2 linked regions of the Homo sapiens genome follow. The protein of the gene in region 1 interacts with the protein of each later gene in a pairwise test. Each region holds a gene or a part of one and is shown in the gene's direction. Other genes may lie near its edges.

The links. Proteins that work in one complex are often made in the same cells at the same time.
Region 2: the proteins of CAPN10 (region 1) and FXN interact in binary tests that used the Homo sapiens proteins (3 or more experiments, as listed by UniProt).

The regions. Positions count from the first base shown.
Region 1 is NC_000002.12:240,588,487-240,597,702, forward strand, and holds part of CAPN10 (calpain-10), read left to right. Parts: intron 1-856; coding exon 857-988; intron 989-2,328; coding exon 2,329-2,525; intron 2,526-3,446; coding exon 3,447-3,664; intron 3,665-5,419; coding exon 5,420-5,561; intron 5,562-6,056; coding exon 6,057-6,223; intron 6,224-6,537; coding exon 6,538-6,818; intron 6,819-7,832; coding exon 7,833-8,035; intron 8,036-8,194; coding exon 8,195-8,456; intron 8,457-9,216.
Region 2 is NC_000009.12:69,072,993-69,079,673, forward strand, and holds the end of FXN (frataxin, mitochondrial isoform 1 preproprotein), read left to right. Parts: 3' UTR 1-6,084; downstream 6,085-6,681.

The DNA.
Region 1 (9,216 bases):
CAGAAGCTGAGTGGGGACCACCTCAGGGGCAGCAGATGGCTGTTCTGCTGTTGTGAATGCTGCTGAGTAGTTGGGGAAGAGAGTTGGGACCAAGAGAAGCCCAGTGGGTTTGATAACATAGAGGTGACAGCGACATTGATCGAGGCAGTTTAGGGGCCATGATTGGCTCAGAAGCTAGAGGAGCCTGTGTGGAGAGTGAATGGGAAGCAGGTAGTGGGCATGGCAGCTCTTTCAAGAGCTGTAATGAAGAGAAGCCTGAAGGAGACTATGGTGCTGAGAGATAATGTCTTAAAGAACATGGGGGTGGGATTCTGCCCGGGGAGCTGGAAGGGAAGGAGTTGTGAGAGGAGCCCAGGCTCTGAGGGCAGGAGAGAGGGTCAGGTCCAGAAGCAGGAGGCAAGGTCGAAGCTCAGAGGGGTGGGCAAGGGCAGTGTGGATGTTTTGAGTAGACGGGGAGAAAGGGGAAGGTATATGATAGTTAGGGGGTGTGGGAAATGGAGCCTGCTAGAGAAACAGATTTCCAGCAGGATGGAGGACACATTTGAGATTTACCAGCATGAGTAAAAAGTGAAACTTTTCGAAGCCAACATTTAGCTGTTTTGAGAAGGAGCTTGCTAGAGTTTGGGATTTTTCCAGTAAGGAAGGAAGGCACCCCAGAATTAAGCTGGACAGAGGCATTTGAAGCCAGGAGCTGAAGGACACCCGCTGCAGGAAACCACCTTCCTGTCCCTTTTTGGGTAACACTGATGATCGGAAAAGCTCCACCCCAACTCCTGTCATCTAGAGCCTTGGGTTCTTAGTTTGAAGGGTTCCACAGCAGGCATGATCTAACTCTGGACAACTTTCTGTATCTCAGGAGATTTGTGCCACACCCCGGCTGTTTCCAGATGACCCACGGGAAGGGCAGGTGAAGCAGGGGCTGCTGGGGGATTGCTGGTTCCTGTGTGCCTGCGCCGCGCTGCAGAAGAGCAGGCACCTCCTGGACCAGGTGCGGGGCCCCTTCCCTGTGTTTGTCCTGGAGCCGGTTTCTTTTTGCGTTTCTCCAGCCTGCTGAGTACCAGGAGGCCTTGCGAAAGCAGAGCTGTGCCGCAGCCGGATCTCCTGCTGTGTTGGGGGAAGGCAGGAGAGTTCCAAGGCAGAGGCTGAGGACTGCACTCTGTCCCTCTGCTGCAGGGGGGGGTGCCTTGGCCTCGCCAGAAGGCTCCATCAGGGAGGTTCGCCCTGCTCTGTGCTCTCCTGACCCCCGGACTCCATGGAGTCAGATCACCACGTTTAGAATAAAGAGACAAATGTGCCAGCTCACAGGAGGACGGGGCTGGCTGGCAGCCTCTGCCTCAGATCTCTCCTCAGCTAGCTCGCTGGTTTTCTTACAGGTTTTGAATATAAGTTTGCAAAAAGTTATTAAACCTGTTTCTGTGGGTAGACAGATACTCTGGGAGGAGAAGGCCTTCTCAGGTTTTCCTTACCTGGGAGTGTTCACCGTTTTATGCTTGGCTTGTTGCTAAGTGTTGCTGATTAATGCAGCGGCGTCAACAGTGTGACCTCATTCAGAGTTTCACTCATGTCCCAGGCCCCATGGTAAGCGTGTCACAGTCACTGGCTTTCAGACACATGGTCTTACCAGCTTTGACTTTTTTTTTAAACGAGAGTGCTAAAATCACTGCCATTGTGTTTCTGGCCGTAAAGTGGCAGAGCCAGGACCGCACCAGGTGCCTGGTGCCCAGCCTGCACTCCCCCGATGCTGGGTCAGAATGCTTACCCCTGAAGGAGCCCTGCGGTGGACGCTGTGGGTGCAAGCAGCTGGCCCAGTGTCGGGGCGCCAGGCTCCCAGCAGCAGGAGGGGCTGCTGTTCCTGTGGTGACGTGTTGCTTGCAGCCAGCTCGGTCAAGAACTGGGTCACTCATGCCCTTGAATGTCACATTTGTTTTGGCTTCAGGTCAGATGCTTTTAGTGAGGGCAGCAGAGTGTGTCCCGGGATATGTGGCTCCCTCGGTGTGGTCCTCAAGTTTTGCAATGAGAGGTCTGTTAATTTCATGTGGGTGATGCAGCCCTGTGCAGGCGCCGACATCCAGGTGTGCCGAAGAGTTCTCTGCGACATCCAGGTGTGCCGTAGAGTTCTCTGCGACATCCAGGTGTGCCGTAGAGTTCTCTGCGACATCCAGGTGTGCCGTAGAGTTCTCTGCGACATCCAGGTGTGCGTTAGAGTTCTCTGCAGACCGCGGTGCCTGTGGAGCACTCAGCTGTGGCCACACCGCGGCCGGGACACTGGAGTAGCGCCGGGTGGTGCTTATATCACGCTCGCCTTTTGCTTCTCCCTGTGCATGGCAGGTCATTCCTCCGGGACAGCCGAGCTGGGCCGACCAGGAGTACCGGGGCTCCTTCACCTGTCGCATTTGGCAGTTTGGACGCTGGGTGGAGGTGACCACAGATGACCGCCTGCCGTGCCTTGCAGGGAGACTCTGTTTCTCCCGCTGCCAGAGGGAGGATGTGTTCTGGCTCCCCTTACTGGAAAAGGTCTACGCCAAGTGCGTGTGCTGGGGGCTGAAGGGCCTGGCCTGGGGCAAGTGGGAGCTGCCACTACCATGGGCTGCCCCAGGAGGGTCTCTGCTCACTCTGGGCTGCAGAGCCCCCTTCAGTTCTGAGGGTCTGGCAGCTCATTCTGTGAGTCAGGCTGACAGGCCAGGTGCAGAGATTCTTCTTTTGGGCCTGTGGATTGCCCACTCCCTGCTTTCCCTTCCCTTGTTCCAAAGCCCAGCGTGGAGTCGTTCTCCACAGAGAACATGTGTGCCGTCCTCCTTATTTTATCGGCCCCAGCAAGAAAGATGCTTCTTTATATTTGTTGTGGAGTGGTTGGGACAGGCAGACTCATTGTGTAGTCGTTGGGGAGGAATGAGGCTACCCCAGCATACCAACACTTGTGTATCACGGTGCTTGCTGGCTCAGGGGACCAGGACCCTCACCATGAGTCATAATTGAATAGCCTTCCCTCTTAGAATGCATTTGTCTTCTTGCCAAAGGCAACTGGACTGACAGGCAGGCAGGGAAGCTGGTGAACATGGGAAGGCTGGCTGGTGACATCAGTGCCCAGTGAGCCCTTCCATCCCAAGGGCTGTTTTAGGAAAAGCAGGGTTGGAGCTTGAGAGCCAAGGGATGTGGGCATCCATAGCTTCCACGCCTCCTGCCCTGCTCCTGTGCCCACACCGGATGCCAGAGAGTTTCTGTGTGTGGGCAGAGGACTGCAGGGCGCTCACGCTTGCTGTGAAGTAAGGCGTTTGAAGGTGAGGCTAAGCCTTGACTTGGTGAGGATGAGGAAGAAGGCAGAGGGGAGTAAAGAGGTGGGATTGAGGCAGCGGTTGGACGATTTGGGGTGCTACAGACCATGGGAATCAGAGAGGGGGCCATGCTCAATGCCAGAGGCTCACTCCCATGGTGATTGTGTCCCCTAGGGTCCATGGGTCCTACGAGCACCTGTGGGCCGGGCAGGTGGCGGATGCCCTGGTGGACCTGACCGGCGGCCTGGCAGAAAGATGGAACCTGAAGGGCGTAGCAGGAAGCGGAGGCCAGCAGGACAGGCCAGGCCGCTGGGAGCACAGGACTTGTCGGCAGCTGCTCCACCTGAAGGACCAGTGTCTGATCAGCTGCTGCGTGCTCAGCCCCAGAGCAGGTGAGGCACGTGGCCAGCATGGGAGGGCTGCAGCCAGCGTGCCCCCCACTGCCAGGCCTCAGGCACACTGTAGCTTTTTATGTGACTGGCTACACAGCCCTGTCAGGACTAAGTGGGAAGAAGTAAGCTTGTTCTCAAGGGTGGTGTCCTCAGTTTGTGACCTTCCCCTACTGTCCTCTTCCAGAGGGACGTGGCCCTTCTCTCCCCTGACCAGTCCTTTCCACTAGTGCGAGGCAGGAAGAGGTGGCACCGAGTCAAAGCCCACTGTCTGTGCCATCCCTGGCCCAGCTGGCAACCTGGCAAAATCAAAACCTGTTTTTTATTTTAGTGATAGATAACATTCGTTAAAAACAGTTTGTCTCCAAAAAATGAAAGGGGCCAGGTGTGGTGGCTCACACCTGTAATCCCAGAACTTTGGGAGGCTGAGGTGGGAGTATCGCTGGAGCCCAGGAGTTCAAGAGACCCGCCTGGGCAACATGGCAAGATCTCATCTCTACAAAAAATGAAGGAAAAAAATCACTTAGATGGAACCACATGTGACTTTTGAGTGCGCTCTCAGTTTTCCATGAGCACGCACGGTTTACGTGTTCCCTTCCGCACCGCTTCTCACACTGCCACACACGCGCTGTCAAATGTTCGCCCCATGAGCGGGTTTGCCACAGTCTCTTAATCATTCCCCTGATGTTGGATATTAAGATCTCTCTGGTTTTATATAATTATAAGCAGTATCAATGAACATCTTTATCATTTTTTTCATACTTAGGATTATTTTAAAAATATGGGTTAAAGAATATGAATATCACAGTAAACTGAAACAAGTTGTCATAGGCCTTGGTCTGGGTCCCCCATAAGCAGACCCTGAGATGAGGTTCAGGAGCACGTTGAGAGGTTCAGAGAGCCTGGAGGGCGTGTACTCCCCGCCAGCCCCGCTGGGGTGCCAGGAAGGACGCTGGCCTCAGAGCCTCCCACCTGGGAGTGAGGGCGCTGGTCTGGTGGGCATTAGCTCGGGGAGCTGTTGGTTTTGGGTGCTCCAGGGTGGGGTAGCGCTAAGTCCTAGCACTTCAGGCTTTAGAGGAAGCCCCCAGGCAGAGAGAGATGGCAGCTGGCACTGACTGGAGGTGCATTGGAGCCTGCTGAGGTGGCAAGGGGCCGCGGCGTGGGCGAGACTGAAGTCCTTCCAGGAGACCCTCCTCTCTAGACCGTTGCCCCGCCACAGATGTGGCCTTCCTCTCTGTTTGGCTCTTTCTTTTCTATGCCCATCTGTCTCAAGGTCTCTGGCCAGGTGGAGCTGTTGCCCCCCTGGGCCTCCATGCCTCCAGTGGGCTTCTAGCCAGGGCACTATCTGAATGTCCTACCTCTAGCAGGCTTTGCCAAGAGAAACACTCTCTAGATTTCTGGCAGTTGCAGATGCATCTGTGCAGCATGTTTGAGAACTGGTGCTGTGCCAGGCATCGTGCACAGATGGGTACGGACGATGACTGAGGCCTAGAGAAGGGGATGACTTACCCAGCACCAGACCCGGATGGCAGCCGAGTCAGGCCCCGTGTGCTTGCTCCTGGAGATGCTCCTGAGCTGATGGGTCACAGCTGCTAAGAAAGGAGCTCTCGTGGTCCATGGGGATCTGGGGTCTCCCGTGTAGCCATAGTGGGGTGGGCTGGAGCATCTCCAGAGGAGGAGGCAGAGGCCTGTGTGTCCTTGTCAGTTTGGGACTCCATGGTGCCCTTCCTGCCTGTGCCTGCGCCATTCCTCATGCAGGTGCCCGGGAGCTGGGGGAGTTCCATGCCTTCATTGTCTCGGACCTGCGGGAGCTCCAGGGTCAGGCGGGCCAGTGCATCCTGCTGCTGCGGATCCAGAACCCCTGGGGCCGGCGGTGCTGGCAGGGGCTCTGGAGAGAGGGGTGAGTGCTGGGGCCTGGACCATGCTGCTGTCGGGAGGGGGGCCCAGTGCCAGTCTGGCCTGTGTCCTGGTCACCTTCAGCTGTCAGGACTGTACTTGGCTGTCTCCAGCAAGGCCCCTGAGTCCCTGCTCTCGTGACACCATGCTTGTCTTGGCTCCAGGCAATCCTTGTGAGGCCTGGGACCAAGGTGGCCATTGGGCCTGGGGTTTCAATAGGGCAGACATCATCACGGGCTCGGGCAGCAGTCCTGGGAAGACGCATCCAGAGGCGTGAAGTTCCTCTGGGAAAAGAGAGGGCTCCAGGGTGGCCGCTGCCCAGAAGGCCCTGTGCTGCAGAGCTGCTTCGGGTGTGGGAGGGGCTGCAGAGCTGGGGCACGGGGTTGCTGGCAGGAACTCAGGGCTCTCTGGGTCCCCTCCAGGCTTCCCCCCAGCCTGCCGGCAAGTTGACACTACCAGTTCTCGGGAGGGGCTTCTGCTGAGATGAGGTTTCTTCCAGGGGTGAAGGGTGGAGCCAGGTAGATGCAGCGGTAGCATCTGAGCTCCTGTCCCAGCTCCAGGAAGGGGAGTTCTGGGTGGAGGAGGAGGAGTTCCTCAGGGAGTTTGACGAGCTCACCGTTGGCTACCCGGTCACGGAGGCCGGCCACCTGCAGAGCCTCTACACAGGTAGTGCCCCGAGGGGCTGTGCTGGGCACGTGCTCTGCCTGCCGAAGTGAGGAGGCTGGGCAGGTGCCTGGGTTCCCCCTGCCCAGGCCCAGTTTGGTTCTCTTCAGCGTGGAGAGATGATTCTGTCCCAGGAGCCGGGAGGAGGGTGATGATTCTGTCCCAGGAGCTGGGAGGAGGGTGGGCTTGTGGGAGGGGCTGGCTCTGTCTGTGGCCGTAGCTGCTGCTTAGACCCTGCCAGGGTTCATGAGGCCACCATGGCGGGAGGCCAGCGAGGAGCCGTGTCCCACAGCTGATGCCTGGTGTTTTCTCACTAGAGAGGCTGCTCTGCCATACGCGGGCGCTGCCTGGGGCCTGGGTCAAGGGCCAGTCAGCAGGAGGCTGCCGGAACAACAGCGGCTTTCCCAGCAACCCCAAATTCTGGCTGCGGGTCTCAGAACCGAGTGAGGTGTACATTGCCGTCCTGCAGAGATCCAGGCTGCACGCGGCGGACTGGGCAGGCCGGGCCCGGGCACTGGTGGGTGACAGTCATACTTCGTGGAGCCCAGCGAGCATCCCGGGCAAGCACTACCAGGCTGTGGGTCTGCACCTCTGGAAGGTAACTCAGCCCCGTCTGGCTCACGCTCGGTTCAGCAGGTGGTGTGGAGGCCCATGGAGGTCTGGGTTCTAGGACTGGCTCTGCCGGGACACATGTGACTCTGCCACGGGCCCCACCAGTCTCCCCCCTCCTTGGGCTGTTGCACGGGGTTGACGTCTGCTGGTGCTCCCAGACCCGGCTCTGACCTGAGACTGCAGGTCTTTCTGCCTTGCCGTGTGCCTCATTGGCCAAAGGAAAGCAACAGAGTCTGCAGCCAGGGCAGGACCCGCAGGAGGGGCCTGGACCCGGGGGGCTCCTGGCAGCGCCGTGCCTTTCTGAGGCAAGGAGGTAGAGCCAGCGGCTGAGGACCTGTCAGGGCCAGTCCCAGCTCTGCAGCTTGCTGTGTGACCTGGCACACATCCTCTCCCTGCCTCCCTCAGTCTCTTCCCCTGCAAGACGGGGTCCTGACACGGATCTCATGGGATTGCTCTGAGGCCCAGGCAGTCCCAGGCTCAACCACTGGTTCACAAAGTGTGTTGTTTCCAGGAAGAACAGATGGGGGCGCCTGAGGGCAAAGGGCCTGAGTGTGGGTCGAGGATATGCCGGCTGCTCGCTCAGGGGCTGGGTTTTCATCTTGTGTGTCTTGACAGGGTGTGACACTTGGCACCACACTGTTCCCTGTCCCTTCATGGATGTGGCCCACATGATGTTCCTTTCCTCTTGCAAAAGAAGTTGCTGGAAGGCCCACTGTCCAGCAGCCCCCAGGTTGCCTGGGCCACGGTGCCTTTGTGGGCCCAGCTACAAGGAGGACTTGCAGGCTCGTGTCTGGGACAGATACTGGCGCCAGGGCCAAGTGAAGCCCGGGATTGGTGGGCATCTCTAGCTGGTCCCTGAGAGAGGGTGGAGGGTGCTGACAGGCCTTGGCGCTTTCATCTGTCAACTCCAGAGGCCCTTGTGCTTGCAGCAGGGAGGTCAAGGCCAGGGCGTCTGACCCCGGCCGCTCCTCCACACTGAGCCTCCTGCACGTGCTCACAGGTAGAGAAGCGGCGGGTCAATCTGCCTAGGGTCCTGTCCATGCCCCCCGTGGCTGGCACCGCGTGCCATGCATACGACCGGGAGGTCCACCTGCGTTGTGAGCTCTCACCGGGCTACTACCTGGCTGTCCCCAGCACCTTCCTGAAGGACGCGCCAGGGGAGTTCCTGCTCCGAGTCTTCTCTACCGGGCGAGTCTCCCTTAGGTGAGAGGAACCGCGCAGTGCTGCTGGCTCTCCGAGGCCACAGGCCCTTCCAAGGCAGGATTTGGGCACTTTCCCTCTGTGGTTGGCAGGTGTCCATGTGGGAACTGAGGCCACCGGGAACCTGCTGCCAGCGCCCTCCCATGTTTGTCTTCTTGGCAGCGCCATCAGGGCAGTGGCCAAGAACACCACCCCCGGGGCAGCCCTGCCTGCGGGGGAGTGGGGGACCGTGCAGCTACGGGGTTCTTGGAGAGTCGGCCAGACGGCGGGGGGCAGCAGGAACTTTGCCTCATACCCCACCAACCCCTGCTTCCCCTTCTCGGTCCCCGAGGGCCCTGGCCCCCGCTGCGTCCGCATCACTCTGCATCAGCACTGCCGGCCCAGTGACACCGAGTTCCACCCCATCGGCTTCCATATCTTCCAGGCAAGCTCCTTGCCCCAGGGAGGGAGGGGGAGCAGAAGGGGCCCTCAGAGAATTTGCATCTTGGCCTCCATTGTCCCAACAGAGGGCTCTGGGCTCAGTCACTTGGGCTCCCCCTGCCCTTCGAGGCGCTGCCTAGAACCCGCACAGGGCCCTCTCCCATCTCCAACCTCTCAGAGGCAAGGCCGAAGATGGCCTCTGGAAGGGCCGGGGGCCTGGGAGGTGGGCAGGGCTGATCCAGGCAGGGCAGGTTTCCAGAGGAGGTGGTGAGTGGGGAGGAAGGGAGAAGTTTGGAGAGGACAGGAGGCCGAGGTTGAGACCAGCGGGGGTGGGTCGAGCCCTGGCTTGGGAACGCAGGGGGCTGATGGACTCAGGAGTGAGAGGAGGGGAGGCCCAGGCTGGCTGGCCACAGCAGCCCCTCGGGTGTGAGGAAGTCCACAGTCACTGAGCTCAGCCAGCAGCCCCTTGTCCACTTACCCTGACTCAGAATGACTGTGTCCCAAGGTTCATTCTCTGCAGACATGTGTCCCCTGGAATGCAGGGGCCCTGACGAGGAAGGCACTGCAACCCTCGGTTCACAGTGGGCTGCCTGGGGACCCTTGGACCCTCGCTGTTTGCCCTGGGCCACCGGCTCAGGTCCCCTAGAGCTCTGAGGAAAACACATGCCAGGGCCAGTGGGAGCCCTTGGGGCGGGCTGGGCAGTCACAGGTGTTAAAGCCCCTGATGATGTGACAGGCCTCCAGGCGGGGGCCCCACTGCCGGC
Region 2 (6,681 bases), on another chromosome or scaffold:
CTCCCTCACATGATACCCCTTATCTTTTATAATGTCTTATGCCTATACCTGAATATAACAACCTTTAAAAAAGCAAAATAATAAGAAGGAAAAATTCCAGGAGGGAAAATGAATTGTCTTCACTCTTCATTCTTTGAAGGATTTACTGCAAGAAGTACATGAAGAGCAGCTGGTCAACCTGCTCACTGTTCTATCTCCAAATGAGACACATTAAAGGGTAGCCTACAAATGTTTTCAGGCTTCTTTCAAAGTGTAAGCACTTCTGAGCTCTTTAGCATTGAAGTGTCGAAAGCAACTCACACGGGAAGATCATTTCTTATTTGTGCTCTGTGACTGCCAAGGTGTGGCCTGCACTGGGTTGTCCAGGGAGACCTAGTGCTGTTTCTCCCACATATTCACATACGTGTCTGTGTGTATATATATTTTTTCAATTTAAAGGTTAGTATGGAATCAGCTGCTACAAGAATGCAAAAAATCTTCCAAAGACAAGAAAAGAGGAAAAAAAGCCGTTTTCATGAGCTGAGTGATGTAGCGTAACAAACAAAATCATGGAGCTGAGGAGGTGCCTTGTAAACATGAAGGGGCAGATAAAGGAAGGAGATACTCATGTTGATAAAGAGAGCCCTGGTCCTAGACATAGTTCAGCCACAAAGTAGTTGTCCCTTTGTGGACAAGTTTCCCAAATTCCCTGGACCTCTGCTTCCCCATCTGTTAAATGAGAGAATAGAGTATGGTTGATTCCCAGCATTCAGTGGTCCTGTCAAGCAACCTAACAGGCTAGTTCTAATTCCCTATTGGGTAGATGAGGGGATGACAAAGAACAGTTTTTAAGCTATATAGGAAACATTGTTATTGGTGTTGCCCTATCGTGATTTCAGTTGAATTCATGTGAAAATAATAGCCATCCTTGGCCTGGCGCGGTGGCTCACACCTGTAATCCCAGCACTTTTGGAGGCCAAGGTGGGTGGATCACCTGAGGTCAGGAGTTCAAGACCAGCCTGGCCAACATGATGAAACCCCGTCTCTACTAAAAATACAAAAAATTAGCCGGGCATGATGGCAGGTGCCTGTAATCCCAGCTACTTGGGAGGCTGAAGCGGAAGAATCGCTTGAACCCAGAGGTGGAGGTTGCAGTGAGCCGAGATCGTGCCATTGCACTGTAACCTGGGTGACTGAGCAAAACTCTGTCTCAAAATAATAATAACAATATAATAATAATAATAGCCATCCTTTATTGTACCCTTACTGGGTTAATCGTATTATACCACATTACCTCATTTTAATTTTTACTGACCTGCACTTTATACAAAGCAACAAGCCTCCAGGACATTAAAATTCATGCAAAGTTATGCTCATGTTATATTATTTTCTTACTTAAAGAAGGATTTATTAGTGGCTGGGCATGGTGGCGTGCACCTGTAATCCCAGGTACTCAGGAGGCTGAGACGGGAGAATTGCTTGACCCCAGGCGGAGGAGGTTACAGTGAGTCGAGATCGTACCTGAGCGACAGAGCGAGACTCCGTCTCAAAAAAAAAAAAAAGGAGGGTTTATTAATGAGAAGTTTGTATTAATATGTAGCAAAGGCTTTTCCAATGGGTGAATAAAAACACATTCCATTAAGTCAAGCTGGGAGCAGTGGCATATACCTATAGTCCCAGCTGCACAGGAGGCTGAGACAGGAGGATTGCTTGAAGCCAGGAATTGGAGATCAGCCTGGGCAACACAGCAAGATCCTATCTCTTAAAAAAAGAAAAAAAAACCTATTAATAATAAAACAGTATAAACAAAAGCTAAATAGGTAAAATATTTTTTCTGAAATAAAATTATTTTTTGAGTCTGATGGAAATGTTTAAGTGCAGTAGGCCAGTGCCAGTGAGAAAATAAATAACATCATACATGTTTGTATGTGTTTGCATCTTGCTTCTACTGAAAGTTTCAGTGCACCCCACTTACTTAGAACTCGGTGACATGATGTACTCCTTTATCTGGGACACAGCACAAAAGAGGTATGCAGTGGGGCTGCTCTGACATGAAAGTGGAAGTTAAGGAATCTGGGCTCTTATGGGGTCCTTGTGGGCCAGCCCTTCAGGCCTATTTTACTTTCATTTTACATATAGCTCTAATTGGTTTGATTATCTCGTTCCCAAGGCAGTGGGAGATCCCCATTTAAGGAAAGAAAAGGGGCCTGGCACAGTGGCTCATGCCTGTAATCCCAGCACTTTGGGAGGCTGAGGCAAGTGTATCACCTGAGGTCAGGAGTTCAAGACCAGCCTGGCCAACATGGCAAAATCCCGTCTCTACTAAAAATATTAAAAAATTGGCTGGGCGTGGTGGTTCGTGCCTATAATTTCAGCTACTCAGGAGGCTGAGGCAGGAGAATCGCTGTAACCTGGGGGGTGGAGGTTGCAGTGAGACGAGATCATGCCACTTCACTCCAGCCTGGCCAACAGAGCCATACTCCGTCTCAAATAAATAAATAAATAAATAAAGGGACTTCAAACACATGAACAGCAGCCAGGGGAAGAATCAAAATCATATTCTGTCAAGCAAACTGGAAAAGTACCACTGTGTGTACCAATAGCCTCCCCACCACAGACCCTGGGAGCATCGCCTCATTTATGGTGTGGTCCAGTCATCCATGTGAAGGATGAGTTTCCAGGAAAAGGTTATTAAATATTCACTGTAACATACTGGAGGAGGTGAGGAATTGCATAATACAATCTTAGAAAACTTTTTTTTCCCCTTTCTATTTTTTGAGACAGGATCTCACTTTGGCACTCAGGCTGGAGGACAGTGGTACAATCAAAGCTCATGGCAGCCTCGACCTCCCTGGGCTTGGGCAATCCTCCCACAGGTGTGCACCTCCATAGCTGGCTAATTTGTGTATTTTTTGTAGAGATGGGGTTTCACCATGTTGCCCAGGCTGGTCTCTAACACTTAGGCTCAAGTGATCCACCTGCCTCGTCCTCCCAAGATGCTGGGATTACAGGTGTGTGCCACAGGTGTTCATCAGAAAGCTTTTTCTATTATTTTTACCTTCTTGAGTGGGTAGAACCTCAGCCACATAGAAAATAAAATGTTCTGGCATGACTTATTTAGCTCTCTGGAATTACAAAGAAGGAATGAGGTGTGTAAAAGAGAACCTGGGTTTTTGAATCACAAATTTAGAATTTAATCGAAACTCTGCCTCTTACTTGTTTGTAGACACTGACAGTGGCCTCATGTTTTTTTTTTTTTTAATCTATAAAATGGAGATATCTAACATGTTGAGCCTGGGCCCACAGGCAAAGCACAATCCTGATGTGAGAAGTACTCAGTTCATGACAACTGTTGTTCTCACATGCATAGCATAATTTCATATTCACATTGGAGGACTTCTCCCAAAATATGGATGACGTTCCCTACTCAACCTTGAACTTAATCAAAATACTCAGTTTACTTAACTTCGTATTAGATTCTGATTCCCTGGAACCATTTATCGTGTGCCTTACCATGCTTATATTTTACTTGATCTTTTGCATACCTTCTAAAACTATTTTAGCCAATTTAAAATTTGACAGTTTGCATTAAATTATAGGTTTACAATATGCTTTATCCAGCTATACCTGCCCCAAATTCTGACAGATGCTTTTGCCACCTCTAAAGGAAGACCCATGTTCATAGTGATGGAGTTTGTGTGGACTAACCATGCAAGGTTGCCAAGGAAAAATCGCTTTACGCTTCCAAGGTACACACTAAGATGAAAGTAATTTTAGTCCGTGTCCAGTTGGATTCTTGGCACATAGTTATCTTCTGCTAGAACAAACTAAAACAGCTACATGCCAGCAAGGGAGAAAGGGGAAGGAGGGGCAAAGTTTTGAAATTTCATGTAAATTTATGCTGTTCAAAACGACGAGTTCATGACTTTGTGTATAGAGTAAGAAATGCCTTTTCTTTTTTGAGACAGAGTCTTGCTCTGTCACCCAGGCTGGAGTGCAGTGGCACGATCTGGGCTCACTACAACCTCCGCCTCCTGGGTTCAAGCAATTCTCTGCCTCAGCCTCCCGAGTAGCTGGGATTACAGGTGCCTGCCACCACACCCGGCTAATTTTTGTATTTTTAGTAGAGACGGGGTTTCACCATCATGGCCAGGCTGGTCTTGAACTCCTGACCTAGTAATCCACCTGCCTCCGCCTCCCAAAGTGCTGGGATTACAGGCGTGAGCCACTGCACCCAGCCAGAAATGCCTTCTAATCTTTGGTTTATCTTAATTAGCCAGGACACTTGGAGTGCATCCCGAAGTACCTGATCAGTGGCCCCTTTGGAATGTGTAAAACTCAGCTCACTTATATCCCTGCATCCGCTACAGAGACAGAATCCAAGCTCATATGTTCCATCTTCTCTGGCTGTATAGTTTAAGGAATGGAAGGCACCAGAACAGATTTATTGAAATGTTTATTAGCTGAAGATTTATTTAGACAGTTGAGGAAAACATCAGCACCCAGCAGTAAAATTGGCTCTCAAAGATTTTCTTCTCCTGTGGAAAGTCAGACCTCTGAGGCCCCATCCAGGTAGAAGTACTAGTGCAAGAAGGGCCTCTGCTGTCCACTTGTGTTTCTGTGATCTGTGGGAACATTGTTAACGCCACATCTTGACCTCAAATTGTTTAGCTCCTGGCCAGACACGGTGGCTCACACCTGTAATCCCAGCACTTTGAGAGGCTGAGGCAGGTGGATCACCTGAGGTTAGGAGTTCGAGGCCAGCCTGGTCAACATGGTAAAACCCCGCCTCTACTAAAAATACAAAAATTAGCTGGCCGTAGTGGCGCACGCCTGTTATCCCAGCTACTCGGGAGGCTGAGGCAGGAGAATTGCTTGAACCTGGGTGGTGGAGGTTGCAGTGAGCCGAGATTACACCACTGCACTCCAGCCTGGGTGACAAGAGGGAAACTCCATTAAAAAAATGTAATTCCCGTGTCTGCCATCTTAAGTGTAAAGGTGGCTAAATTATATAGAAAAATAAGACAATATCATTTCCCAATTACATTCCTTTCCTACCGCACTCTATGATGCTAGCTGAGATTTTTCCAAAAGAAAATGGCTTAAATAAAACCCTAAGAGAAAGAAAAACTTTAAATCCCTCCAAAGCTCAAAAGTAATAGAAACAGATGAGTTTGGAGTCAGGATTTCTCTGTAAGATTGCCTAGGCTGTGTACTGCACATCTCCAGGTGCCACTGTTGACAGAGATTATAACTACAATGTGAAGTGAATGGTGCCACTGACAGTTATGCAAACCGTCCAGAGCATAGCCACCTGATCCTGCTGGGATTCCTCTTGCCAGTCCATCAGCAGTTCCCCTTGAAAGTTTCACCAAACATCCCTTAAATCTGCCCTCTCCTGCCCGTCCCCAGTGGAGGTCCTCATCATTTTTCACCTGCATTTTTGCAGGAGCTTTCTTATATCCACCTTCCTCCTTTTCTCTCAGCCCATCATCTAGCTACACAGTCTCCAGGGTAAGCTTTCAGAAAGGCAATCTCTTGTCTGTAAAACCTAAGCAGGACCAAGGCCAAGTTTCTTAGCCTGAAAAATGTGCTTTTCTGACTGAACTGTTCAGGCACTGACTCTACATATAATTATGCTTTTCTACCCCCTCACACTCAACACTTTGACTCCAGCAATCCCAAATCCCCAGATCCCTAAGTGTGCTGTGCTATTTTCACGTGGCTCTCAGACTTGGCCAGTGCTGTTTCCATTTTGGTCTTTATTCCCCACATCTCTGCCTGGGGGGTAGATTCTACCCTGAAAAATGTTCTTGGCACAGCCTTGCAAACTCCTCCTCCACTCAGCCTCTGCCTGGATGCCCTTGATTGTTCCATGTCCTCAGCATACCATGTTTGTCTTTCCCAGCACTGACCTACCATGTGTCACCCCTGCTTGGCTGTACCTTCCATGAGGCTAGGACTATGTGTCTCCTTTGTTGACTGCTGTTGCCCTAGCATCTTGCACAGTTCCTTGCACACAATTAGAGCTCTATAAATGTCAAATAAATGTGTTATAATTATATGTTTAAGATAGTTGTTCAAATAAACTCTAAATAACCCCAACTCCAAGAGTGTTAGCAAGAAATATAAATTTTACAGAAGAATGGTTGGAGGTGGGGAGGGTGTCCACGGAGTGAGTTACCTCACACAGGCACGGAAAAACTTGAACCTCCTAAGGACATTTTTAAGCTCTCTTTCCCATTTTCTCTCCTGGATTCCCATTGCCTGGTCTCATTTCTCTCTTCTCCACCACACCACTTCCTCAAAAATTCCTTTAGGGTTTGTTCTTAAGCTTAGATAGGTTTCCCATTCTGAAATACAAAGGCCTGATAATTAGCCAACTTACCTTGTTGGGGATGTGGAAGGCAAGACTCTCAGACTCCATGACTCAGGTATATTGCAACAATTAGGCTGAAAGTTCCTTGAGAGTAAGTGTCCAAATCTTTTCATGTTTGGTTCCCAGGGCTCACTACAGTTGTTGGTATATCATAGGCACTCTAATATCTTCTTAAAGAATCAATATCATTAAAATGGCCATAACTGCCCATAGCAATTTACAGATTCAATGCTATTTCTATCAAACTATCAAGGTCATTTTTGTTTTATTTTTTTTCTTTGAGATAGAATCTCGCTATTGTCACCCAGGCTGGAGTGCAGTGG